Homo sapiens: one gene and its partners. The protein of the gene in region 1 interacts with the protein of each later gene in a pairwise test. Each region holds a gene or a part of one and is shown in the gene's direction. Other genes may lie near its edges.

Region 1 (3,500 bases):
TTTTAATGGAGCACACTGGAACATGTGGAATGGGTTTAGACTGGATTATTCGCTTTGTGGCGGTCTTCTTACATACATCATGCCAGCTTCTTCGTGGGGAGAGGCAGGTGAGTGGTTTTGCCCTCAGTTGCTTATAGTCTAGTTGAAGAGATAAAGTGAACATAGAGAACTGAAAAGGAACTTGCTAAGAGGGTGTTTTCTTTCATTCTTTTTGTTGTTGTTGTTTTGTTTTGTTTGTTTACTTTTTGAGACAGGGTCTTACTCTGTCACCCAGGCTGGAGAGCGGTGGTGCAATCTCAGCTCACTGCTCAACTTCACCTCCCAGGCTCAAGAGGTTCTTGTGCCTCAGCTTCCCGAGTAGCTGGACTTACAGGTGCACACCATCATGCCTGGCTGATTTAGAGGGTGTTTGCTTTCTGCTGGGCACATCCAGGCATCGTGGGAAGTGCTGTTTAAATTGGGCCATAAAAGGGTGGGTAAGGTGAGGACAGGGGACCAAGTGGGTGGGATTCAGGGTGAAGCAGAGTCATGGGGGTGGGGACAGACACGCTGATGCACATGGGAGTAGTGGATCCTCATTTACACTCTGGAAGGGAATTGTGGAGAGGGAGGTATAGATGAGGGGATGGAAGGGAAGGGCACCGGCAAATATTGTTGATAGCGAGGGAAGGGCGGTATTGTGATCGGCTTTGACTGTCAGCCTAAGGAATTTGAATTTCATTCTAGAGATCCAGGGGAGGTGTGTAAAAGACAAGATCAGAACGTTAGTTCAGGAAGCTTAATCTTTTCTGCCCCCCCATCTGAGATGTACAAGAGGGTTAGAAAGCAGAGTTGGAGAAGCTGTTTGGGAGGGAGCACTTATTTGTTTTTTTGTTTTGTTTTGTTTTTTTGAGATGGAGTCTCGCTCTGTTACCCAGGCTGGAGTGCAGTGGCGCCATCCTGGCTCACTGCAACCTCCACCTCCCGGGTTCAAGTGATTCTCCTGCCTCAGCTTCCCAAGTAGCTAGGACTACAAGCACCTGCCACCATGCCTGGCTAATTTTTGTATTTTTAGTAGAGACGGGGTTTCCCTCTGTTGGCCAGGCTGGTGTCGAACTCCTGACCTCAGGTGATGCACCCACCGAGGCCTCCCAAAGTGCTGGGATTACAGGCGTGAGCCACTGCGCCCGGCAGGGAGGGGGTAAAGTGAGAGGCATAAGGGTCCCGGCCAGGTGTTAGCAGGGGGCTTCAGAGGTGAGGAGAGAGCAGGGCAGGCAGCTGCTAGGCCTGGGGGAGCGGGCTGCGGAGGACTGAGAATCTGAGGTTTTTCTCTTGGCCGCCTGGGGGAAATCCAGGGGGAAAAGGAGAATGAGGAAGGAAGATGCGTTTGGCCTCAGACGTGTTGAAGGTATTAAGAGGCCAACAGGAAATGAGGCCATGGGCTAGAGAGAAGAGCCCTGATTCATTCCCCAAATGCCTCCCGAAATTCTGTGCGCCGAGGCTTGTGTTTGGCACTTGGAGTACAAAGATGAATTCAGCAGTCTCTTTGGTGTTTGCCTTATCAGCTAAGCTGAGAACAAGATTGATTAGTACACACTCCTCAGTGTTCATGCCTGACCTACTTTTCCTTATTTAGTAAGTTATTTTTAATAAATGTAGTAAGCTCTGGCAATCTAGGCACCCAAAACAAAAGCTGGGATCATGAAACAAAAGTATATATCTAATCTTTTTTTTTTAATTTTAAAAAACTTTAAAAAGTTTTCTACTTTATCAGGTCCCCTTAGAACATCTAATCATTTCATTTGAACTTGTTTTCTGTTCTTACCCTGAGGTAATCATTATCTCCTTTCTTTCATTTTTTTCTTAGTTTTATCTTACATGTGTATTTCTTTGTTTCTCTGTCTCTTTTTTTTTTTTCTTTGAGGCAGAGTTTCACTCTTATTGCCTAGGCTGGAGTGCAATGGCACGATCTCGGCTCACTGCAACCTCCACCTCCCGGGTTCAAGCTACTCCCGATTCTCCTGCCTCAGACTCCGGAGTAGCTAGGATTACAGGCATGCGCCACCATGCCCGGCTAATTTTGTATTTTTAGTAGAGACGGAGTTTCTCCATGTTAGTCAGACTGGTCTCAAACTCCTGACCTCAGGTGATCCACCTGCCTCGGCCTCCCAAAGTGCTGGGATTACAGGTGTGAGGCACCGCGCCTGGCCTATTTCTTTCTTTTTTTAGAGACAGTGTCTCACCTTGTAACCCAGGCAGCTGGAGTGCAGTGGCATAATCACGGATCACTGCCGCCCCAAATTCCTGGGTTCAATGGATCCATCCCCTTCAGCCTCCTGAATAGCTGGGACTACAGGCACAGGCTACCATGCTTAGCTAATTTTTAAAGTTTGTGCAGAGGCAGCTTCACTGTGTTGCCCAGGCTGGTCTTGAACTCCTGGGCTCAAGCAATTCACCCGCCTTGGCCTCCCAAAGTGCTGGGATGATAGACATGAGCCACCATGCTCGGCAGTGTTCATCTTTCGTAGCTATTGCTAGACCATTTCCTGAATGTAGTGCTTATACCAGTATCCACTTTACCAGCAGTGTCCTGTGTCTTGCAGCTCCACAGTCTTACCAACATTTGCTGTTGGCCAAGTGAATGGGTAGAAAATGGAATCTTTGGGAACTTGGTTTCTAGGTCCCTGAGCCCTGCTGCTGAATATCTCCTCTTATGTTTATTGGCATATGTGTTTCCTGTGAAATATTCATGTCTTTTGCCAGTTTTTCATTAGGGTTCTTGGTGCTTTATTTTTTGTTGATCTATAGGGCTCTTTATATATTGCTGATTTTAATCCTTCGTGTCTATTGCAAATATCTTCTCCCAGCTTTTAACCTATTATTCCTCTTTCTTTAAGGTGTCTTCTGTTGATCAGCCATTCTTCATTTTAACATAGCGAAATGTATTTTTTCCCTAGTACTCAGTTTTCTGGGTCTGGTTTGAAGTCTTTTCCTGAACATAACCCTTGCCTTTAAGGAGCGTATGCATTCTCCAGTGGAGGAGACAGATAATGGCACTGAGACGTCATGTGGGCATTGATTGTTAGAAGTGGCCACTTCTGCCTGTGGAGCGGGAGCGAACTTAGGAAAGATCTCACAGGGCAGAGTCTTGAGCTAGGAATTAAGAGATGAGTAAGTGGACAAGTGCGATGGGCATTCTCAGTGGGGGACGAAGGGCATGAAACATCCTGACCTGCCCTGGGCACTGCCAGGAGGTCCAGATGGCAGGAGCTGACGGTTTGAGGGGCTCGGGCAGGGCATCCCGAGGACAGCTTTGGGTGATCTGTATGCAAGGGAATATTGAAGCCATGGGAACAGATCCTGAGGATCCGGGGGGAATGGAGAGAGGAGGGGAGGAGGGGAGAGGGAGGCCAGGGCCTGATTCCCGGATGCAGAGAATGTTATCAACGCCCGGTGTGGCTCTGGGGAGCACCTGGGGCTTCCCAGGGGCGGGTGCTGTTGGCATGCTGCCTGCTGTGCTG
Region 2 (3,500 bases), on another chromosome or scaffold:
CCTAACGAACACACACAGGGACACATTTAAAGATGTGTGTATGGAGGAGTAATGCAGGCGACCCTATTGTGCCCAGGGCAGCGTCTCTTCCCGGGTGAGCCTCATTGTTTTAACTCTTTTGTCCTTAGGGCCCAGAAGCCGCTGCGTGGTTCTCCCGCCCTAGGCCGATAACAAACCGGGAATAGGAAAAAAACAAAAAATTGTTTTGCGGGAAGAATGAAACACACACACACACACAAACACACACGCACACGTTCATGCCTAGAGTATTCTCACCATCTCTCATAGCACCGTTTTTTAGTCCGCTCTGCCGGAGCTTCAAAATTCCGCGATCTTTAGACAACTCTAGGGTCAGATTTTAATGTTTAACTTTCATTCAAAGACGAGGCCTTTTGCTTTTTCACAGCCCATTTTTCTTTCCGCGTCTGGACAGAGCTGGCTTTAGTTGGCGCCCGAGCACCCGCAGCTTGGGGCACCAACCTGCAGCAACGGGGGATCAGTCCGGCCTGCGCGTTGTAGGCACTCACTCCACAGAGGAAACTATGTATTTCGAAAGCGTTTCAAAAATTCCACCGAGCCTGGTGGCCCCGAAAAACCCCAAGGCCCGCCAGACTTTGGAGAAGGGTCTGTGAGGTACCCTCACTGTCATACCTACGCCGGCACTCTCAGTCTTTTGGAGAAGCTACTAGAGAAGTGCCTCAAGACCAGCCTCGGAGGAGCCTGGCTCTCGAGCCTGCTCTCCCCCGCCCTCTCCCAGAGCAACAGAGGAACTTTCGAGCTAGGATCGGCTGGAACAGCTGCTCCGGCTGCGGCCTTGCAAGTATATTGCTGCGGCCTTGCAAGTATATTTCAGGCGCTCGGCGGCGCCATCTGCGCTCGGACCTCAGCCCCTGCTCCACCCGGAGTCCTCAGCTAGGGCTTGGGCCTTTCCCGCCAAAATCTTCTGCTAAGTGCTGCCGAAGCCGGGTCTCCCGCGGAGCGAAATAATGTAAACCTTCTGTGGAGGGATTTCCTCCTCCAGAAACTTCGGGCCGGGCCACACAGCAGCTGCGTTCCAGAGGCCTGGGGATGTGGTGGCGCGCGCGGGTGGGCACCTAGACAGGCACATCCAAGGACACGCAGGCAGATCGACACTCCGCGTACACGTGTACACGTGGCAGGTCTCGCATTCTCGCACGCACCCGTCAGCTCAACTGCTAGTGAAATGAGATAGGAAAAGCCCTTGCAGAAAGCGCGGCCGCCCCAGGGCACTTTCTTCTTTGGAGTTATCTAGATCAAGTGGTCACATGAATTAATCTGCCAGTTTATGGTTTGTTTGCTCAAAATAAAACTCAGAGATTTTAATTCTGACATCACCTCTCTACCAACCTCCAACCCCCAATAGGGTAACAGGGTGAACACGGAGGAAGTGACTCTTTACTGACGTTTAAGTAACGAATAAAAAGTGATGAGTTCAAGCCAGCGGGGGAGAATGTGTTTGTGTTTGCGCGGGGCAAGCGCCAGCCAGGGCACAGGCCGGAGCTCAGACCGCAGGGACAGGGTGTTCGGCGAACGCGTAGAGTGAGATGCCGGAGGGTCTGCTGGGGTTGAGTCCAGGGACAAGGAACCTTGGTTTGTCTCTGCCGTGCACGCCCCTGCACTGGTGCTGGCCTGGAGGTGCCTGGCTCCGAGGAGTCAAGGGTGAGGCCTGGTGGACTTACGCAAGGTACTCGCTTGTCAGGTTAAAACGGTCTTCCACGGAGGTCACCCTTTTGGTAAGTGACCTTGTGTGAAGGGAAGCGAGAGGGATCTAAGGCCCGAGTTTGTCATGGGCCAGTGAGGATTATTGTTCGCTGAGGGGATGACCGCCAAGGGCCTTTTTCTGCGCACTGATCGGATCTTACTAAATTAGACGCCCTTTGGGTGCGCGGGGCTGGGTTCCCGGGCAGCGGGGATGGTTATGAAGACATTCTATGTAAAACTCCGGCCCCGGCGCGGTGGCACAATAGAAACCAGTAGGCAAAGGGAAGTAATTGTAACCTGTTCCCACCCAAAGAAATGACCACAGCAAACTGCACTAGGGCAATGGGAAGTTCAGAGAATGGGAAAACCCAGATGTAGAGTTTGGACTGTGATAGGGAGGAAGGTAAAATGTGCTATGGTTTGCATCTCCAAAGGTCCCTTCCCACCCTAGGTTCCCGCGCTTCAGAAGCCAGTAATGATAGACCCAGGGATCACAAGGGGGTGTGCGGGTCTCTCCTTTTGCTGCCACGAAGTGCAGGGCGACCCCTCACCCGCCTCTGGCGTCCACCTCTGCACCTCAGAGACCCGCTGGGGAAGCACAAACCTCATGGGCAGCGAAGGCTTTCCTAGGCAACTTCACACACAGTCTACCGCCGCTGCAATTCTAAATTCAGATCTACTCCCAACTCAACGTTATTTCTTGCTGAGCACTATATTTGGGCTCTGAGCTTGCCACTTTGGGTATCTTGATTTGTATAGGTGAAACTCCCAGAAGGAAGATTTCATGGGGGCAACCTTCATGCAGGGAGGAAGGGAGAATTAAATTTCTTAAACAGGAGTTCAGACTGAAATGATGCTGACACAAATCGTCTGCCATTTTTCTGACACCTCCCATACCAATGACTTCAAATGGTTAAAAATCTTTTAATTATGAAAGAAAATTTGTTTAAAATCTTTTAATATAGACAGCATGTGAGGAGTGAAGAATGGCATGCAATGCCTAAACTGGGGACCAAAACTAAAAATACTGGGTATTGTGTTTTGTGTTCCCCATTTATCTGTATAATGTGCTTCATGAGTGTAAACATGGAAACGAGTTCCTCGTCATTAACCCTCATATTAGGCCACAAGGAGAAAGGGACAACTACATTTTGGCTTAGAAGGCCTAAACATTGTGTTCATCCAGTCCTCTCTTAGGGCATGCAATGCTATTATTGAGTGAAATATTTCCGGTCCATCACAATCGTTCTATTGCCAAAAAAATTATAAGATGAGAGGATCGCTTTGAGATCCTGATTATAGACTCTGGTAGAACTTTATTTCTCACACCCGGGAGAAAAACAATTACCTCTTAAATCTGTGAATTCCTTCTCAGGGTGGCTATAATTTTTTCTTTGTTTTTTGTTTTTTAAAGCAAGGCCGAACTGTACAAATTCCACAGGGATAAAGGGCAGATTGGCATGCTATATACCTTTCTCCTTTCTGGAAACAGGACTCCATTCGATTATTATTCTGGGAGTGCAGCTGGTTATTGCTTTCTTACTCTCAAAAGATAAAGTTGTTCAATAGGAGAAAATACTTAAATGATTTTCCCATCTGAGCTTTATGTTTTGACCTTTTGAGATACTTTTCACAAAAGGGAAAACTAAGGAACTGGTGGAATGTGGAATCTCTTTTCCTTACTCTTTCTCATCCGTGTAGTTTATTTTTGCTTTGCTTTTCCTGGTTTCTAGTAAGTCTGGAATTTTATATGTGCATGACTGACATACTCAGGGGTC
Region 3 (3,861 bases), on another chromosome or scaffold:
GGCAAGTGAACAGATTCTTCTGGAAAATATGTTGGAAACATGCCACTTTCTTGTATAGATGGAGACAACACACTCTGGCAGGAAGATGTGGACTTGCAGACCCCAAAGGTTACTTCTATATGAGTTGTGTTGATTTGCAGTAGTGACCATTCCTTTACATTAGTACTTTGTACTTATGCATTATTCTGTCTCTCTCACACACACACAGATACACAGACACCATATATCTAAAAATTGAAGCACATGGTATTTGAGTCTGTTATCTTTCCTTAAGAGAAAAGAAATATACATTACTGTTGAACTGTAGCAACATATACTAATATTGAAAATAAGGAAGACACAATCTCCCAGGTCTAGCCTGCACAGCACAAATTTTATGTAAATTTAGGCAGGTTTGCCAAGTTTATGGCTTTGTCCTAGAGCAACAGTAATTGTCTTGGATGATGGAATGGTTGTTGTAATTTCGGAGCAATTAATCTGTAGATCAATGGCAGAAAAGAAAGCTGGGAAAGTAAACTTGCTTAAAATGAAATTTAGGCTGGACAAACAGAAAGTTCCCTATGCAAAAATGTTGCATGGCCAAACCTAAGCTAATATTTATAAATTTATGATACCTGTTATGCCATTTATTCTGACCCTCCCAACTTGAGAGAAACTTCCAGAGCTCTATTACAGGAAATACACACACGTACACACACACACACACACACGCGCGTGCACACAGACATAGACAGAGACAGAGAGAGAGAGAGAGAGCTTATAAACTAACAGACAAGATGAAGGATATAACTGCAACGTGAGGGGCTAAAAAATAATGTCACAATGATTCTTAGAGGAGTTCTTGTTTCATCTTCACAGATAGAAAAGCAATTTAGCCCCCAAACCTCTGTTCTCCACCAAGTTAATAATATGCATCCCCAAACTGGAAGTTTAAGTTACAATATTAGGCACAATACTCTGCTCAATGTGTTTCCAAATTTGAGGAGACTTGACAACTACCTTGTAGAAACTAAAACTTCATAAATAACTCTTTAAAAAATATCATGCTTCCATGATTCTTCTAAATCCTTCTTGAAATGATTTGTCTTTCCAACTGCCCTGCATCAGAATTAATGTAGTGAATGCCTTTACCATCCATCTACTACTGTGCAAACACCAGTCCCACATTTAAGTTCAAAGGAGTGTCACAGATTCATCCCCACCCACCCCCCTCCCCACTCCTTTTCTCCCTCCCTTCCTTAGCAACTGGTAACCCCAGAAAGAGAACTCCAAATCTAGAAAGAAGCAGTTGGTCCCTGGCTTCATTCTAGTTGCCAAGCCTCTAAAGCAGAAGCAGGAGTCATTTCTCCAGACCTAGCTGGCCTGTTCAGTGGGTTATCTCCACCACCTCAGGAAAGCTATTCTGATCAAATTTCTTCATGGCTTGTATTGAAAACGTGTAAGTACAAAACCGAGTACAACTGTTTAATTTTGAAGGCAAAGTCAGTTTGAATTGCTTTATTGTGTAACTGGGACAGGGATGAATGGGTTGGAGGAGATGTGGGAGGAAATTACAGACAAAAACTTGAAGGACATAAATTTAGTTACTAAGAATACCGGATTTAAGAGTGGCAACTTTGAAGTGTAATTTTGAAAGAAAATTTACAAATCCCTAGTCTAAACAGTGGGGTTTAAACATGAGGAAATTCTTACTCTAGGGTGTGGTGGTGGTTGAATGAAAGAATTTTTAACAAAATTTGGTGTGAGTGTTGAATGATACCTCAAGAAGAGAAACTTGTGTGTTTGTTAACATAACTAACTTTTCTTTGACTTCTGTGAAGAAAAAGATATTTTACTTCGGAAGACATACCAGAACAATCTTGCCAGAATCTGAATGCCAGGATTAGTGAATCATAGATCCTAGAGAGAATTGAAAAAGCTGGTATTTTCTATTATATGCTTACTATTAAGTTATGTGCATCTTCTAAGCTTCCTTGCTGCCTTGTGGAGGTGGGGAAATGAGGAATGAAATAGGCCACTGAGTAGTCATGAAGGGTAATCATGTAGCCTAGTACTAAAGAAGCCACCTGGGAAGGGGCCAGAGCGCTGAGCAAGTATTTGGCTACATATAGGGGAGAGGGCACTCCTTTTTTCCCTGGTATATTTCAGTGAGCTCAGTCAATTACATATTGTAGCTATTTTCTGGTCAGTGCATTTCCATTTTTATTAGCTGTTTGATTTCTGTTTTTGCAAGCCTTGGAGGGCACGCCCCTTCACCCTTGGTAGTATCTGTGGACAAAAATGGGAACCAGGAGCTGCACCACGACATGCCCCTGCAATGTCTGAGTTCCAAGCCAGAGGATGACGCAGAGCCCTGGGGTCAACCTCAAGTACCGCTGAGACCTTCCGTCAATGTGCTGACTGATCTGGATAGCAAGCAACTGGAGTGGCCCTCTGAAAGAACAGGATCCTGCATTCCTCTTCATAGCTTGAGAGCTCATAGACACCCCTACGGGCCACCACCTGCTGTTGCAGAAGAGTCCCTAGCAACAGCAGAAGTAAACAGCTCTGATGCACTGGCAGGCTGGAGGCAGGAGGGACAGGATGCTATTAATGTGTCCTGGGAAGTCTCTGGCGGCCCTCCTGCACTGATAGTAGGGGGCACAAAGGTCAACAATGGGGGCACTGAGAGAGGCAGTAATAACGCAAGGTTGCATGTAGCTTTGCCACAAGGTAAAGGGTTCTTTCCACCCAGGGGCCCACAAGTGAGAGGCCCTTCACATATTCCCACCCTTAGATCAGGGATAGTAATGGAGGTGCCGCCCGGAAATACACGAATAGCCTGCAGAGGAAAGCTGGCTCATGTTTCTTTCCCACTCAGGGGCCCATGCCACCCCATGCATAATTGGCCAAGGCCTATCCCGTTGTCTTCCAGTACTCCAGGTTTACCTTCTTGCTCTACTGTTCATTGTTTCATCCCTCCTCGACCTCCGATTTTCAATCCCTTTCTCACTATGCCTCTTCCTTTTGCTCCTCCTCCGATATTTGGTCCTCCACTGCCTTCTTATTTTGCCCATTTCCATTCTGGGGGAATGCCAGCTCCTGCATCACCCAACAGAGAGCACAGCTGATGGCAAAAAGGAAGGATGAAAAAAGGGTTGTGGAAAGAGGTGAAAGTTATTCATTTATGCTTTTATATTTGAAACCTTGTACCCTCCCACACTCTGTTTAGCACTAATGTGCCCTACTTGAAACCACGTACCCTCCCACACTCTGTTTAGCACTAATGTGCCCTATTTGAAACCTTGTACCCTACCACACTCTGTTTAGCACAAATGTGCCCTACATACTGGAGATTAAATAAAGATTGTGAAGTCTGAAATGCTGTAAATTATTTTTCAAAATGACACCCCAGGAACCAAAGCCTTGGATTTTGTGTTCTATCTTTAAGGTAATTAAAGCAGAAACAAACCTGTCAGTGTTTTCTAAATGGCTTAGTTAAATGACTGTTACTATTTTCTATTGAGTTGTCTTGCAGTGTGACTGGGGAAGGGTGGTTAGGTTCTTCCTAGGCCAAGGCTAGATTGGGGAATCTCTATCTACCCAAGGCTATAAGGGGTGCTTAGAGCTGGATGGCTGAATTAAGAAAAGTTCCATAAAGGCAGCCTAAAGTTCAGATAATAGAGAAAAATGAACAAACAGTAAAAGAAGCCAGATGAGATTGAGGTGAGAGTAATAGAGCTAACATTTAGCAGTCATAGGCAGAACCAAGTTGAAAAGTCAGGAAAGAAGGAGGAGGGAAGATGGAAGAGTATTCTTAGACCACTGCTTCAACACGAACTGGTGTTTGTGTTTCAACTTTTCCTTGTTGCTAATTACATA
Region 4 (3,500 bases), on another chromosome or scaffold:
GAGAATGGCTTGAACCCAGGAGGTGGAGGTTGCTGTGAGCCAAGATCGCACCATTGCACTCCAGCCTGTGCAACAAGCGAAACTCCGTCTCAAAAAAAAAAAAAAAACAAAAAAACAAAAACCTGAGATAGAGCCAGGGCCCCGGTCTCTGAAACAAGCCCCCACCACCCCGGCCCCCCACTTTCCTGTCTCTGCAGCAGTCTGAGTCCCCGCCTCGCCGAGACAGCCTGGCCTCCCTGTTCCCCAGCGAGGAGGAGGAGAGGAAAGGTGGGTGTTGGGAGTACATGCCACAGAGGATGGCAGGCCAGGGTGGGGAGGGGGCTCTGAGCTGCAGGACCCCAAAATCTCTGAGCCAGGGGATGGGGAGGTGAGGGCAGGGTGAGGAGGACCCTGAATGTGACAGTGCAGGTGAGGCTGGGAGCCACAAAGACAGGGTAGCCGCTATGAGCCTGGCAGGCCCCGTATTCACATCCCACAGGGCAGGTGGGCTGCCGTGTTCCTGTCCCGAGGCCAGGATGCATCCCACCAGCTGGTTAGATGCTAGTGACTCCTATCTCAGAAGTTAGCGTGGGGGCCCATAGTCCCAGGGGCCAGTTAGGCAGTCCGGCAGTTCTGAGGCACGTGTCCCCTCATGCGAGGCTGGAGGGGCAGGAGGCTTGCAGTGACCCAGAGCCCACCCCACCCCACCTAGGTCCTGAGGCCGCAGGAGCAGCAGCTGCTCAGCAGGGTGGCTATGAGATCCCTGCCCGCCTTCGGACCCTGCATAACCTCGTGATCCAGTACGCGGGGCAGGGCCGCTATGAGGTGGCGGTGCCTCTGTGCCGCCAGGCCTTGGAGGACCTGGAGCGCAGCTCGGGCCACTGCCACCCTGACGTGGCCACCATGCTCAACATCCTGGCGCTGGTGTACCGGTGAGCACTGCGGCCAGCCATGGCTGGGGGCAGGAACGGCAGGGACCCATTGGGTGCAAGTGGAAGGATCCTGGTGCCCCCTCTGTCACCATGGAGCACCTAGGGAGGTCAGGGGAGGGGACAGCAAGAATGGGAAAGGAAGGGAAGGCTCCTGCTGTGAGAACGGCAAAGAGGGAGTGGGACAGGGATCTGGGGGGGCCACTGAGCCAGGCAGAGAGGAGTCAGAGAGCACGGACACCAGGGACCCCAACAGAGCAGGCAGGAGACCTGGGGTGGCTAGAAGCTTGGCAGAGGTCTGGGGGTACAGGGCCCAGTGTTAGAGAATTGCGAAATATGGAGGGGCCCACAAAAGGCCCTCAAAGGGTGTGCCACCCATGCTTGGTTCAGCCAGGTTCCCTGGGCCTGTCAGGATTGGCCCAGCCCCTGTGGCTGCAGCTGCCCCAACCCTTGGCTAACCCCCTCCATTCCTGGGGCGCCCCCCACAGGGACCAGAACAAGTACAAAGAAGCCACAGACCTTCTCCATGATGCCCTGCAGATCCGGGAGCAGACGCTGGGCCCTGAGCACCCCGCGGTGAGTGGGGCCCCAGGGAGACGAAGTGGGGTCAAAGTGGGGCCACACCTGCCCATCCCTGACCTGTGCCTCCCCCAACCCCGCAGGTGGCCGCCACGCTCAACAACTTGGCTGTCCTCTATGGGAAGCGTGGGCGTTACCGGGAGGCAGAGCCCCTGTGCCAGCGCGCTTTGGAGATCCGAGAGAAGGTCCCATCCCCCTCACCCCACCCCGAGGAACCCCTTGTCCCATGTAGCCCTCCCCAGGGATGCTGAGCACGTACATCGTGACCCTGACCCTCGGGCCCCTTGCGTTTGGTATTGGGAGACCCCAGTTGGAGCCTAGATCACCCAACCCATCACCCTTGACCTTCTGAGATCCCAGTTTGGTCTTGACCCTGACTGACCTCTCGCCTTACCTCACACATCACCCTCCAACTGGGTCCCCCCATAGCCTTTCCAACCCCTCATGGCCACCAGCACAAGCCCAACCCTGACCTACCCATCTCACCCTGTGCCCCACGTTTCTGGACCACCATGACCTCTGACCTTGGTAATCCCGTTAGATGGTATAACTTGTGTCCCCAGCCCCCAACCTCTCAGGTCACTCTCTGCTTTGACCCTGTAATCCCCAACTCATGACCACCATACAGCAGTGATGTCACGTGTCCCACCAATCCTGTATGATCCCTCTGACTTGTGACCCCTGGCCCCCAGGTCCTGGGTGCTGACCACCCAGATGTGGCCAAGCAGCTCAACAACCTGGCCCTGCTGTGCCAGAACCAGGGCAAGTTTGAGGACGTGGAGCGGCACTATGCCCGGGCCCTGAGCATCTATGAGGCACTGGGCGGGCCCCATGACCCCAACGTGGCCAAGACCAAGAACAACCTGGTGAGGCCCCTGGGGCTCAGAGTGGGCCAAGAGTGGAGGGTCCTGCCCTGGGGAGGCACCCATTGGTTGGATACAGGGTGAGCAACGTGAGGGTGGGGGGGGGCCCCCCAGGCCGGGCCCTTGGAGCAAGTGTCAGACACAGGAGCTGGCTCAGCACAGAACACGGAATCAGGAAACGCGTAAGTCCACGGCAGCCAGAGGACAGCCAGTGAAGCGGAAGCTGGCAGGCACAGGTGGCAGCAGCAGACATTTATTGAGCTCACTGTGGCCGGCTCCCCTCTTAGCCCGGTCCCCACATCGCTAGTTCTTATAGCGTCCCTATGAGGTGGGAGCTGTCGCTCCACTTTGCGTGTGGGAAGACTGAGGCACCGAGGCCATGCCACCAGCCCAAAGTACAGCAGACAGGCTCAGAAACAGGAGGCTGCCTGTCCTCCATCCCCAGGGCAGGAAGTAAGGCCGAGCTCCAAACCCACTCTGCCCCAGGGCAAGGCTTTAGGCAGGGGAAGGATACGGCCAGGTCAGCACATTAGAAAGTGGGGCCAGACGTGGTGGTTCACGCTTGTAACCCCAACACTTTGGGAGGCCAAGGCAGGAGGATCACTTGAGGCTAGGAGTTCAAGACCAGCCTGGGCAACATACCAAGACCCCTGTCTCTACAAAAAAAAAAAAAAAGGCGGGACTGGATGCAGTGTTGGGAACTGGGGTCCGAAAAGTTCCCAGACACTCCCTTCTCCGCAGGCCTCAGCCTACCTGAAACAGAACAAGTATCAACAAGCGGAAGAGCTGTACAAAGAAATCCTCCACAAGGAGGACCTACCCGCCCCTCTCGGTGAGCCCCTAGCCCCTGTCTGTCTTCCCTCCTGGTGGCTTCTCTATGTCCCCATCTCAGTGTCCCCCATCTTTCCCCCTAGGTGCCCCCAACACAGGCACAGCTGGTGACGCAGAACAGGTGAGGATGGGCTGTGCTTCGGCTCCTGGGGTGGGCGTGGGGACTGCATGGGCCTGGGGGACTGAGCAGCATCCCCGGCCCCTCCCCAGGCCCTTCGCCGCAGCAGCTCACTCTCCAAGATCCGTGAGTCTATCAGGCGAGGAAGTGAGAAGCTGGTCTCCCGGCTCCGAGGCGAGGCGGCGGCAGGAGCAGCCGGGT
Region 5 (4,223 bases), on another chromosome or scaffold:
TATATTCATTGACAACTTCTGAATTAGAAAAGTCAATCTCTGATGTCTTGTATCTTCTGCAGTTCAGCCATTATTAACAGAACTCAAAACATTTGAGGTTCTCAGATAAATTTTGAAGCCTGTTAAATTTGAAGTTGGCCTGAAACTTTTGCACAAAGTGAATTACCCCTATTTTATTTAGGGTTTTTGCCTATTGCAACTGATTTTCCTTTATCCACAGCTATTCTACATAATGTTATGCAGTGTTTGGTTGAATCCTTAACACTTTTCTTCCACCTTCCCTGCATGTAGTTTGTACTTTTTACAGTTTGGGGTTCCTGTGTGGATTTGATTTGCCACATTCCGGGACCTCATTGCGAGTGATTCTGTTCCCCAGTTTGATGATGTTCAAAGAAGCAGGTAAGTGAGAGCTGGGGTCAGATATAAGCAGAAAGTCAGAACTTTTTTATTTAAAAATTTTAAAAAAATTTTTTGAGGGTAAGAAAGATCTTGCAGTCTTTTAGGACCACTGCCCTAACAACTTCAGATAGGCTAGCTGTAAGTAGAAAGAAGCTAGGACTGTGGAATTGAATTTCCTGGATCAGCTGCAATTACAAGGAGGATAAGAGAATGGTTGAGCTGATTCTTTTCTATTTTCTTTTCCTAGAAATAGTATGTATTTTTAGTCATTAACTAGTATTTTGGTTTTGTTTAATATCCCAGAAGCATTTATTCCTCTCTTAATACAGGTAAAGTGCTCCTGATGACTCTCTCACTCAGAGAGTTATCTTACCCTTCTTTCAGGGAAAGTGAATTTTACAAGTTAATTCTGCATGTTTCCCCTACAACTGATTTCATTCTGTACCATTAAATGGCCATTTATTTTCTCCCTTCTACTTAATCCAAGATTGGACATTGTTGAGTTTTGTTTGAACAATGTTTGTTATGCTGAAAAAGGACACCAGGCCTGGGGGAACTCATCCTGTGTCTAGATCAACAAACAGAACTCCAGAGGGTCCTCTGGTTCCTCCCACTTGGTTGGAAAGGTGCTTACCCTTTCCAATCAAATATTGACTTCTGCACTAATCCAAAGGGTTTTCTTCTGAAGCTGTAAACTGAGAACAGAAATATTGCCTTGAGTGAGAGAAGTCTAGGAAGCAGCAGGTTTCATTTTTTGTCAGCCTGCCTGGCCTTTACTTGGCTAACACTTGGGAGTGTTGACAGTCCTGAGCCCCCTTGGCAGAGAACAAAGGTTAGAGAGAAGCCCTCAGGCAGGGGGACAGATCCCTCTTTGCCTCATTAGGGAGAATTCAGCCTTGTCTGTCTGGTTGGCAGGGCACACTTAATCACTGAGACTCAGCATTTCAGCAGTTTGCAAAGGAAAGTGATATGAAGGGACAGCTGCAAGTAAGCCACAACCTAGATCTGAAGAGATCAAGCACTCATTTCACTTGGAGGAAAGAGAGAAGGAAGGAAGCTGAGGACTTAGCAGGGTAAGTTTTTTTTTCCGTCAACCTGTCTGCTTGCTTAGTTTATAATTGAGTAAAGTATTTATCACCCCAGGCAGTGTTAATCACTGATTAAACAGCTGAATGTGGCCATAATTACAGTGTCCTTAATGTATTTCTCCTTCTCTTTTCCTACCCCCTTATAAGGATCTCCAATGACCAGTTTCAGTCTTCCTTCTCCCTACCTCTCCAAAGACGTTTTGCATTTTTTGGTGACTTACAGAAAATTAGATGAGCACTCCTTATCTGGAGATAGTGAAAATATGACTGTAGTTTAGGTGAAACTTGGGACTCTTGGTGGTAAAGAAGAAGATGGGAAACCTAGGTCTAGGAATAGATTAATATTTTGTCTTGAATTTGGACATGAAGGATAAAAGTTTTTCTAGGCAATCAAGATCATGTCTCCTCTCCAGTTCTTGGTGTTGGTGTTCTCTCTCTTATACTGGGACTAAATTAGAGCCTAAGTCACTGGGGATGGCTAGAAAAAAATGAAAGGGATTCCCTTTCTAAGTGGAGAGCATTCTAGACTCTGGAAAGTTCAAAGAGCTTACTGCAATTCTTTCCAGCTTCTCCTGTGAGTCCCCTGTTTTTTCCTTTGTTTCTCTCAGTTTATAACCTGTGAACAGGGAGTAGCCTGGGGCTCTTTACAGGAGATTTAGAACCAGGGAAGCTGTGTCTGGGCCTGGGGTATATAAACTCAAACATGAACCTGATGATGTATATAGATGCAGATCAAAGACCTGGCTTCTCACCCACCTTCTTTCTTTTCTGCCAGAAAGCTAACTCATTTGTATCATGAACATTGTGCTCTAGACACAGAGGAGACTGTGACATTAGGGATTTTTACCACCACTCCTCTTCCTCAAACTGTGTGATCCTTTTGCTTTCTGACCAGTTCAGCCAACTCCCAGATTGCCAAGAGCTAATCTTCCTTTAGAGGAAGACCTCACCTTGGAAATGCGGAAAAGTAAAGCAGTACCTTTCTGACCTTAAGTGGCTTGCTTCCATTGCAGCAAAAAGGCTTATGTTTTAACTTCAGGGAGATATCTATTATAAATTCTGGGATTTAAGACCCTAGAGTTGTCTCAAATCACACTTTCCTTCCATACCTATTTAAAAAAAAAAAAGTCATTCTTTCAAGGTTTAAGAAAGTGGTGTCTTGGCCGGGCGCCGTGGCTCATGCCTGTAATCCCAGCACTTTGGGAGGTCGAGGTGGGTGGATCACGAGGTCAGGAGTTCGAGACCAGCCTGACCAACATGGTGAAACCCCATCTCTACTAAAAATACAAAAATTAGCTGGGCATGGTGGCGCGAGCCTGTAATCCCAGCTACTCAGGAGGCTGAGGCAGGAGAATCACTTGAACCCGGGAGGTGGAGGTTGCAGTGAGCCAAGATCGCACCACTGCACTCCAGCCTGGGTGACAGAGTGAGACTCTGTCTCAAAGAAAGAAAGAAAAAGAAAATGTTATCTTGCCTGAGGCAGGTGGGTAGAGTAGATAAATGCTTTTTGTAGAATGGCAGTGATTCTGAAAATGCAATGAGAATGTGAGGTGATTAAAAGTGGAGGACAGAATGAGGTTAGTTGTTGGAAATTGGGCCCTAAAGTGTGAAGGGCAATTCCATTTACTCTTTTGGTAAAAGGACATGACCCTTAAACCCTAAGATAATCTAATATCATTAGGTCCAATTTCTTCATTGAAGGTAATATATAGGATATGGTATACAGATGAGCTTGACTATTTCTGTTCTGTGGACTGAAACCATCCATTCACCCATGGGATAAGGGGAGACATTAAGAGGGTGGATGGAAACATAAGGATGAGGAGATAGAAAGTACAAAGGAAAATACAAATTTGTTCCTCCATTAACCTGAGGACAGGTTTTTAAGAGTCATGTTGTAAGATATGGATATGAGCTGGATAATTCTGGGAGCTTTTTGTTTATTTTTGCCACCTGCATACACCTCAGCTGCATGATGATTCTGAGGTTTTTCCTAACAGATCTGATCTAGAAGGATCAAATGTCAGATCATTTTTGTAACAAAACATGATCCCTGGTTTGAACTTTAACAGTTTCCTCATTCACACTGCCAGCGTTTTTAATCCTCTGTTATTTCTCTGTACCTGAAGACAATCTGGGGATTAATAACTTTTTAGCCTCTCAATCTCTATGAATACCTTCCTTCCTTTCTTTTTTAATCGAAGTGAAAATCATATAACATAAAATTAATAATTTTAAAGTGAGCAATTAAATGGCATTTAGTGTATTCACGGTATTGTTCAACCATCAATTTTGTCTTGTTCCAAAACATTTTTATCACCCCAAAAGAAGACCCCATAACCATTAAGCAGTTACTCCCCATTTTCCCTTCCACCCAGCCCTTAGCAACTACCAATCTGCTTTCTGTCTCTGGGTTTACCTATTCTGGATATTTCATAGAAATGGCATCATACAACATGTATACAACATTTTGTGTCTGGCTTTCTTCACTTAGTATAATGTTTTTTGAAGTTCCTCTACATTGTAGCGTGTATCAGTATTTCATTTCTTTTTATAGCTGAATAATATACATCTTCATATGTATATTTATATCCCAATTTGTTTATCCATTTATCCATTGATGGACCTTTGGGTTGTTTCTACCTTTTAGCTGTTGCGAATAGTGCTGCTATGAACATTCACATATAAGTATTTGTTTGAGTATCTGTTTTTAAATATTTTGGGCACATACCTAAG
Region 6 (4,239 bases), on another chromosome or scaffold:
TACATTCTTAACTATAATTTTATTCAGTCTAGGCCCTCAGAATTTTCCCCAAAGGAACACATCTTCAATTTTGTAATGAAAATCAAAGGAGAATGAAGCTCAGATTTCAAAATTTAGAGTAAACATTTCCAGGAACTCAGCCCCTCTGTAAAGAGCAAGGTTGCGTATTGGGCACCTACTGTATACCAGGCACTTTACATACAGTATACCATTAATTCATCCAACACATATTTTTTGAGTGCCTACTATGTGCCAGAAACATGATCCTCATAATTTATTAACACCATTTTACAGAAAAGGAATTCCTCTCATCCTTCTCAAATTTTTCTCCTCAAAGAAGTCGGCCTGGACCACCATGGAATATTGCCTCCCCTCTTCTCCCCAGTGCCTCACTTTGTTACTAGGTTGGTACAAAAGTAATTGTGGTTTTTGCCATTGCAAGTGATGGCAAAAACCGCAATTACTTTTGCACCAACCTAATAGTTATTTTCCATCAGAGTCCCATTGCATCTGTAATTATTGCTGCTTTACTCGCTTGGCTGGTTTGCATCGATCTCTCCTCGCTAGTATACAGGCTCCAGGAGAGCAGGGACCATGCCATTTTTGCCCACCCTTATGCTTCTTCAGTGCCCAGCAACTCATCGGGCACAGAGGAGGGGTTGCATCAGTACTGGGGGAATTATGAATGGGGATGGGAGAAGTTCAGAAAGTTCTTAAGGTCACACAGCTCGGAAATGAGTGTCAGGATTCAACCCAGCCCTGCATTTATAGACTGCCATCTTCCTCTATTTGTGTCCATTCTTCTTTCTTCCGTCTCCACCCTCTTGCTTTTCCTTTTCAGGGGAATTGCTAGAGAAGCAACCCCCTGACTCTCGGAACCAGAAAGTCTCCCTCAGCAGAGGTACTGTGTCAGTGCCCAATTGAATGAAGCCGCTTCAGTGAGGGTAGGGGCCTGTTGATCAGCAAACAGCTAACTTAGCCCTTCTCCCTGCACCTCGGACCTCCTACTCCTGCTCCTACCCACCTACTGAAGCTGTCTCAGTGGTCAAGGGCTAGATCAGGCCTAGAGTGCTGGGGTCTGAGTCTCAGCTTCCCTTTTCTCAGGGGGCCTTGGACGCAATCCCTTATGACTTTGAGATTCGCTTTCCTCCCGTGTAGAACGATAATAAAAAGTGGTACTAATTTCACGAGCTTTAATAGGATTGAATGTGAGCCCAGCGCTTGGCACAGGGCAAGCGCCCCATAAAATGGCAGTTAGGATTAAAATCGAGGTTGCCGGGGGACCCCCAGGCAGGAGCTGAGATTTGTGTGGAGCGGCGAAGTGGGGCGGCGGCGCGTTTGGCTTTGACTTCTGATCCCCCGAAGCGCTCTGGGGTCCTTTGGGCCCCACCCCCACCCACCCCACCGGCGGGTCTTGGGCTCCGAACCCAGGGCGCCCCGCGCACCGAGCCGTTGCGTTTGAAACCCACAGAAAGAATTCCCCCGCTCGACGACGGCGAGGGTGTGGGAGCTACTGGCAGGCAAATTGGTGGGAGCCGCCCGGCCCAGCCTGCCTTGCCGAGTCAGCGCGCTCTTGAGCCGCTGGGCCCTTCCCGGTGCCCGCCTGGCAGCGCGGCGCGGCTGGGGCAGGGGTCTGCTGGGGGCCGGGGACTAAGGGCTGTGGGCCCATCCACACACGCCTCATCCCTTCTTTCCGGGGGCAGCAGAGCAGCAGCGGGAGACCGGGAGCAGGAGGGGTAGGGCGAGAGAAAAGCAGGACCTGGGCCGGGGGTGGGAGTCGGGCCGTTGACGCTCGCTCTGCGAGGGGCTCCCTGGGAACGCCCAGGCGAGCGCCTCCTGCGGGGCCCCGCCCCCCGAGTGCCTACAATGGTGCCAGGCCCGCACCCAGTCCTCCGCGTGGCTTAGCGGGACAGCATGGGCTGAGCCCAGGCGCCGAAAGTTGTCACGGCGGCGTCGCAAGGGGGCAGTGCCAGGGACTGTGGGGAGAGCCAGCCCTCCCCTTCCAGCTGTTCCCAGATGTCATTCTGCCCGCCCAGGCGCCTGGTTCCTGAGCTCCGCAGCATTCCACTGTTCCTAAGCTACTGGTTTTTGTTGACTTTTAAATATTTTCTTCTAAGGGAGAGGGGGAGGGAGGCAAAAGTCAGGAAAGAGCAAATAAAAACAAATCAAAATAAGCCCTCCCCTCCCCAAAAGAAAGCTGTCCTCCACCCACCCCTCCCACACAAATAGAAGGCCTCTGAACCTAACCACCTTGCTGGAGCGAAAGCCAGACAGAACTGACCCACTTCTGCCAAGCCCCATCCTCATCTCCCTTTCTGGTGAATGAGGGGTGGTGGTGGTTGTGTTCTAGCCCTGGGTGGACAGAGGGGCTTCCAGAAAGAGAGGAGGAGGATGGCCAGCGGGAATGGGCTTCCTTCATCCTCGGCCCTGGTGGCCAAGGGCCCCTGCGCCCTGGGCCCATTCCCCAGATACATCTGGATCCACCAGGACACACCCCAAGACAGCCTAGACAAGACTTGCCATGAAATCTGGAAGAGAGTTCAAGGCCTGCCTGAGGCCTCACAGCCCTGGACCTCCATGGAGCAGCTCTCTGTCCCTGTGGTTGGAACTCTAAGAGGCAATGAGCTCAGCTTTCAAGAAGAGTAAGTACCCCCCTACTCCATTGGCAGCAAGGGAGGAGGGAGGAGATGAAGTCTGACCTTCTGGGGGAATGTTCTGGCCCACTGTTGAGGCTGGTGAAACCCTAAAGGCTGTATATTGCCCCCTCCATGGTCCTTTGTCCAAGCTTTATAGAAGAGCTGACCAAAGTTCTGAAGTTTTGTGGGTGAAGAGTCAGATTAGGGCTATATTCCAGGCTGCCTCTTCACCAGCCCGTTAAGCAGACATTTCTCATCCTAAACGCATGTGAATCTGAGGTCCTTGAAAAACCACCCTAGCTAAGGCTAAGGGTTATATGGCTTGTGGCTTTCCCCAGAAGCAACTAGAAGATCCTTCCCCTCTCCCACCTAAAGGCTAGGCATTCACATGGATGAGTCTGATGGTTTTAAATCACATCTGGAATTCCCTAATACAGGGAGCAGCTGTCCCATTCAGCCTCCACAGAAGCTGCTGCAAGAGCACACATCAAAATATTTACTGGGAAGGCACTGACATATTCAGAGGACATAATAGAAAATTAAAGTGCGGGAAGATGGCTGTAAATAGCCCGTTTCCGGGATGGGAAATCCTGTGTCTGGGAAACACAGAGCTAAGTGTTTCTCCATCAGGGCAAAGTTGGGCAGATATTGTTGAGGATGGATATTCGAAAGGAAAGGAAGGAGCAGAGAGGAAAAAGGGAAATTAGGAAAAGAAAGTAAATCTGCTGTGGTTATTAATACCGCCGTTGAGCACTTACTTATTTCACGTTTTGCATCTTCAAAGTGGACTGTAAACTTAATTAATGTTCCCAGAGTCCCTGTGAGGCAGGTATTAGTGTCCCCATTTTACAGATGGATTAAGTGTTAATAATTAAGAGCTAATTAAAGACTAACCGATAATTAAGTGTTGCCTGCTCCAACACATGCTACAGCTCAGTTCAGAGATGCTCTGGAGTTGGGGAGCCATTCAGGCATTTATCAGCTGCCTCGGGTTTCAGGGATGCCTAAGCAAGAGCTAAGAAGAAAAGCAAAGTGTAAATGACACCCAGCTCTACACTACCTGCTGTCCCTCTGTGGGCTCATTTACTTACTGCAGATGAAGGTGGAAGGCACTTTGGCTAGTCCTGCCTCCCTGCCCTGTGCTCAGCATGACAAGGCTCAGACAGGAATGGCCCATCTACAGCTAAAATCCTGCTGTCAGGCCCTTCAGTGGCACTGAGCCCTTCTCCCCTGCTCATTGCCATCTGCTCTGGGACAGGGCCTTGGCAGGAGGGCCCATGGGGCTGTGCTCTGCTCTCAATGGCCAAGAAGCTGATTGTCCACTTTGTGGACCAAGGGTCAGTAGCAATTTCCAGTAGATGGCATCCTCTTTGCCAGGTCACACAGAGTTAATGGAGACAGACTCGACTTCCAGTCTGCACTTGGCTGAAAATTGAACTGGTGCACCTTTGGCCAGCTGCTTAACTCCATTTGGCCTTTACTTCCTCATTTGCAAATTGAGGGTGATATGTGCTGCCTTGTCTACCTCAGAGTTGATAATGAGGATCCAATGTGATGGGAGACAGGGAAATGAAAGATGCATTATACAAATCAGGCTGCTCTT
Region 7 (3,500 bases), on another chromosome or scaffold:
AAATTAGCCAGGCATGGTGGCATGTGCCTGTAATCCCAGCTACTCGGGAGGCTGAGGCAGGATAATTGCTTGAACCCAGGATACGGAGGTTGCAGTGAGCCAAGATTGCACCACTGCACTCCAGCCTGGGCGACAGAGCAAGACTCCGCCTGGGAAAAAAAAAAATGCAGATTCCAGTTCAGTAGGTCTGGGATAGGGCCGAGATTTTGCTTTTTTTTTGAGATGGAGTTTCGCTCTTGTTGCCCAGGCTGGAGTGCAATGGTGTGCTCTTGGCTCACTACAAGCTCTGCCTCCCAGGTTCAAGCAATTCTCCTGCCTCAGCCTCCCAAGTAGCTGGAATTACAAGCATACACCACACCCGGCTAATTTTGTATTTTTTTTTTTTTTTTTTTGTTAGTAGAGACAGGGTTTCTCCATGTTGGTCAGGCTGGTCTCGAACTCCCGACCTCAGGTGATCAGCTGGCCTGGACCTCCCAACGTGCTGGGATTACACACGTGAGTCACCATGCCCGGCCAAATTTTGCTATTCTAATAAACTTCCAAATGTTGCTGACACTGCCAGTCCCTAGAACACACTTTAAGTAGCTGTAGTTTTTTTGTTTTTGTTTTTGTTTTTTTGTTTTGAGTCAGGGTCTTGCTGTGTTGCTCAGGCTGGAGTGTGTGGCATGAACTTGGTTTACTGTAGCTTGGACCTCCCAGGCTCATGTGATCCTCCCACCTCAGCCTCCCAAGGAATGAGAACACAGACAGGTGTATACTACCATGCCTGGTTAATTTTTAAATTTTTTTATAGAGACAGTGTCTGGCTATGTTGTCAGGGCTGGTATTGGACTCCTGGGCTCAACCAGTCCTCCCACCATGGCCTCCCAAAGTGCTAGGATTACAGGCATGAGCCACCGAGCCTGGCCCTGAAAATTTAAATTAAGGTCTTAATCCTAGGTGCATATGAAAGTCATTGCAGTGCTTTTTATGTTTATTTTTATTTATTTATTTTTTTTGAGATGAAGTTGCACTCTGTTGCCCAGGCTGGAGTGCAGTGGTGCAATCTCGGCTCACTGCAACCTCTGTCTCCCAGGTCCAAGTGATTCTCCTGCCTCAGCCTCCCTAGTAGCTGGGATTATAGGCGCCCGCCACCCTGTCCCGCTAATTTTTGTATTTTTAGTAGAGACGGGGTTTCACCATCTTGGCCAAGCTGGTCTTGAACTCCTGACCTTGTGATCCACCCGCCTTGGCTTCCCAAATTGCTGGGATTACAGGCATGAGCCACTGCGCCTGGCCAGAGTGCTTTTTATTTTTTATTTTTTTATTTTTGAGATAGGGTCTCACTCTGTCACCCAAGCCAGAGTGTGGTAGCACAATCATAGCTCATATAACCTTGAACTGCTGGGCTCAAGTGATCGTCCCACCTCAGCCTCCTGAGTAGCTGGGACTACAAATGAGTGCCACCACACCCAGCTGGTATTTTTTTTCTTTCTTTTTTTTTTTTCTTTTTGCTGTTCTTGATCTCCCGGGCTCAAGTGATCCTCCCACTCTGACTTCCCAAAGTGGATAAGAAGCATGAGCCGCTGTGCCCAGCCTTCAGTGGGGTGCTCTATTTATTTATTTATTTTTGAGACGGAGCCTTGCTGTGTCATCCAGACTGGAGTGCAGTGTGGCGCAATCTCGGCTGACTGTAAACTCCACCTCCTGGGTTCAAGCGATTCTCCTGCCTCAGCCTCCCGAGTAACTGGGACTACAGGCGCCTGCCACCACGCCCAGCTAATTTTTATACTTTTAGTAGAGATGGGGTTTCACAATGTTGGCCAGGATAGTCTCGATCTCTTGACCTCGTGATCTGCCCACCTCGGCCTCCCAAAGTGCTGGGATTACAGGCGTGAGCCACCCTGCCAGGCTACTTTTGACACCCCCAAAATCCAGCCAGGTGCAGTGGCTCACCTCTGTAATTCCAGCACTTTGGGAGGCCGAGGTGGGAGGATTGCTTGAGCCCAGGAGTTTGAGATCAGCCTGGAAAATAGAGGGAAACCCAGCCTCTATAAAAATTGTAAAAATTAGTTGAGTGTGGTGGCGCACACCTGTAATCCCAGCTACTCAGGAGGCAGTGGTGGGAGGATTGCTTGAGTTGGGAGGTCAAGTCTGCAGTGAGCCATGATCATACCACTGTACTCCAGCCTGGGCAACAGAGTGAGATCCTGTCTCAAAACAAAAAATCTTAACTACTAATAGCCCACTGTTGTCCAGAGGTCTCAGTGATTACATAACAGTCAATTAACTTATTTTTTTATGTGAGCCAAAGATTTATGTCTTCATTTCTTGCATTTGAAGTACTCTTGGATGACATCCTTGGCCTGAGACTCCTTGCCATAGTCCTTAACTACTACACAACTGCAACCAACCACTTTACAGGGTTTCCCTTCTCTCAATTTTACAGAGCGCTACCCATTCCCCTAGTTTCTTGTTGTCATCAACCTTAATTAAGTTGATTTGGTGCTCAGCACAAAGGGACTCCACCAGCTTGACATACATAGGCTTATCACAGTTGGATCAAGCACACAAAGATGGGCTTGGCGCTTGTCTAAGGCTTTGGCAGCTTCACAGATTCCACGTGCTAGGCCATCGTGGATGAGGGCGGTCTTCAGCACCTCTTGTAAAGCAGTATTAACATCCATTACACCTCCAGCAGCAATGCCTCCCTCGGCCATGGCAGTGGGTTATGGGTGAAGCTGAATCTTGAACATACCCAAGCCTCCGCCTCCGCGCAACTCGGCAGTGGCAGGGAAAGGGTGATTAACATATTTTTTAATGTTATATATATATATAATACTATAATCTTACAATAAGCTGAAGAAAAGAAAATGTTATTAAGAAAATCAGGAAAACACATTGAATTTACTATTCATTAGGTGGAAGTGGATCATCATAAAGGTCTTCATTCTCATCGTCTTCACATTGAGTAAGCTGAGGAGGAGGAGGAAGAGGAGGGGTTGGTCCTGCTGTCTTAGGGGTGGCAGAGGCAGAAGAGGTGGTGGAGGAGGTAGATGGAGAGGCAGGCACATTCAGCTGTAACTTTTTTTTCTTTCACTCTGTCACCCAGGCTGGAGTGCAGTGGTGGGATCTCAGCTCACTGCAAGCTCCGCCTCCCGGGTTCACACCATTCTCCTGCCTCAGCCTCCTGAGTAGCTGGGACTACAGGTGCCTGCCACCACGCCTGGCTATTTTTTTTGTATTTTTAGTAGAGATGGGGTTTCACCGTGTTAACCAGGATGGTCTCGATCTCCTGACCTCGTGATCCACCCGCCTCACCCTCCCAAAGTGCTGGGATTACAGGCGTGAGCCACCGTGCCCGACCTTTTTTCTTTTTACTAGCCCCTCAGTGTTTAAAGTTGTAACTTTTATTTAATTAAATTTAATTAATTAATTTTTTTGAGACAGAGTCTCACTCGGTCACCCAGGCTGGAGTGCAGTGGCGCGATCTCAGCTTACTGTAACATTGCCTCCCAGGT

Evidence for each region.
Region 2: the proteins of DTX2 (region 1) and TBX15 interact in binary tests that used the Homo sapiens proteins (3 or more experiments, as listed by UniProt).
Region 3: the proteins of DTX2 (region 1) and PRR32 interact in binary tests that used the Homo sapiens proteins (3 or more experiments, as listed by UniProt).
Region 4: the proteins of DTX2 (region 1) and KLC3 interact in binary tests that used the Homo sapiens proteins (3 or more experiments, as listed by UniProt).
Region 5: the proteins of DTX2 (region 1) and MSS51 interact in binary tests that used the Homo sapiens proteins (3 or more experiments, as listed by UniProt).
Region 6: the proteins of DTX2 (region 1) and C1orf94 interact in binary tests that used the Homo sapiens proteins (3 or more experiments, as listed by UniProt).
Region 7: the proteins of DTX2 (region 1) and ECSIT interact in binary tests that used the Homo sapiens proteins (3 or more experiments, as listed by UniProt).

What each region holds. Positions count from the first base shown.
Region 1 is NC_000007.14:76,464,709-76,468,208, forward strand, and holds part of DTX2 (probable E3 ubiquitin-protein ligase DTX2), read left to right. Parts: intron 1-3,500. UniProt on the Homo sapiens protein: Regulator of Notch signaling, a signaling pathway involved in cell-cell communications that regulates a broad spectrum of cell-fate determinations.
Region 2 is NC_000001.11:118,981,844-118,985,343, reverse strand, and holds part of TBX15 (T-box transcription factor TBX15), read left to right. Parts: intron 1-1,465; exon of another isoform or gene 1,466-1,754; intron 1,755-3,500. UniProt on the Homo sapiens protein: Probable transcriptional regulator involved in the development of the skeleton of the limb, vertebral column and head. Acts by controlling the number of mesenchymal precursor cells and chondrocytes.
Region 3 is NC_000023.11:126,818,426-126,822,286, forward strand, and holds PRR32 (proline-rich protein 32), read left to right. Parts: upstream 1-1,303; 5' UTR 1,304-1,418; coding exon 1,419-1,438; intron 1,439-2,233; coding exon 2,234-3,110; 3' UTR 3,111-3,361; downstream 3,362-3,861.
Region 4 is NC_000019.10:45,347,250-45,350,749, forward strand, and holds part of KLC3 (kinesin light chain 3), read left to right. Parts: intron 1-197; coding exon 198-267; intron 268-691; coding exon 692-911; intron 912-1,396; coding exon 1,397-1,484; intron 1,485-1,570; coding exon 1,571-1,672; intron 1,673-2,179; coding exon 2,180-2,353; intron 2,354-2,587; exon of another isoform or gene 2,588-3,091; coding exon 3,092-3,182; exon of another isoform or gene 3,183-3,264; coding exon 3,265-3,302; exon of another isoform or gene 3,303-3,391; coding exon 3,392-3,498; exon of another isoform or gene 3,499-3,500. UniProt on the Homo sapiens protein: Kinesin is a microtubule-associated force-producing protein that may play a role in organelle transport. Plays a role during spermiogenesis in the development of the sperm tail midpiece and in the normal function of spermatozoa.
Region 5 is NC_000010.11:73,430,762-73,434,984, reverse strand, and holds the start of MSS51 (putative protein MSS51 homolog, mitochondrial), read left to right. Parts: upstream 1-1,423; 5' UTR 1,424-1,472; exon of another isoform or gene 1,473-4,223.
Region 6 is NC_000001.11:34,175,468-34,179,706, forward strand, and holds the start of C1orf94 (uncharacterized protein C1orf94), read left to right. Parts: upstream 1-1,439; 5' UTR 1,440-2,322; coding exon 2,323-2,642; intron 2,643-4,239.
Region 7 is NC_000019.10:11,522,635-11,526,134, reverse strand, and holds part of ECSIT (evolutionarily conserved signaling intermediate in Toll pathway, mitochondrial isoform 1 precursor), read left to right. Parts: intron 1-2,281; exon of another isoform or gene 2,282-2,779; intron 2,780-3,500.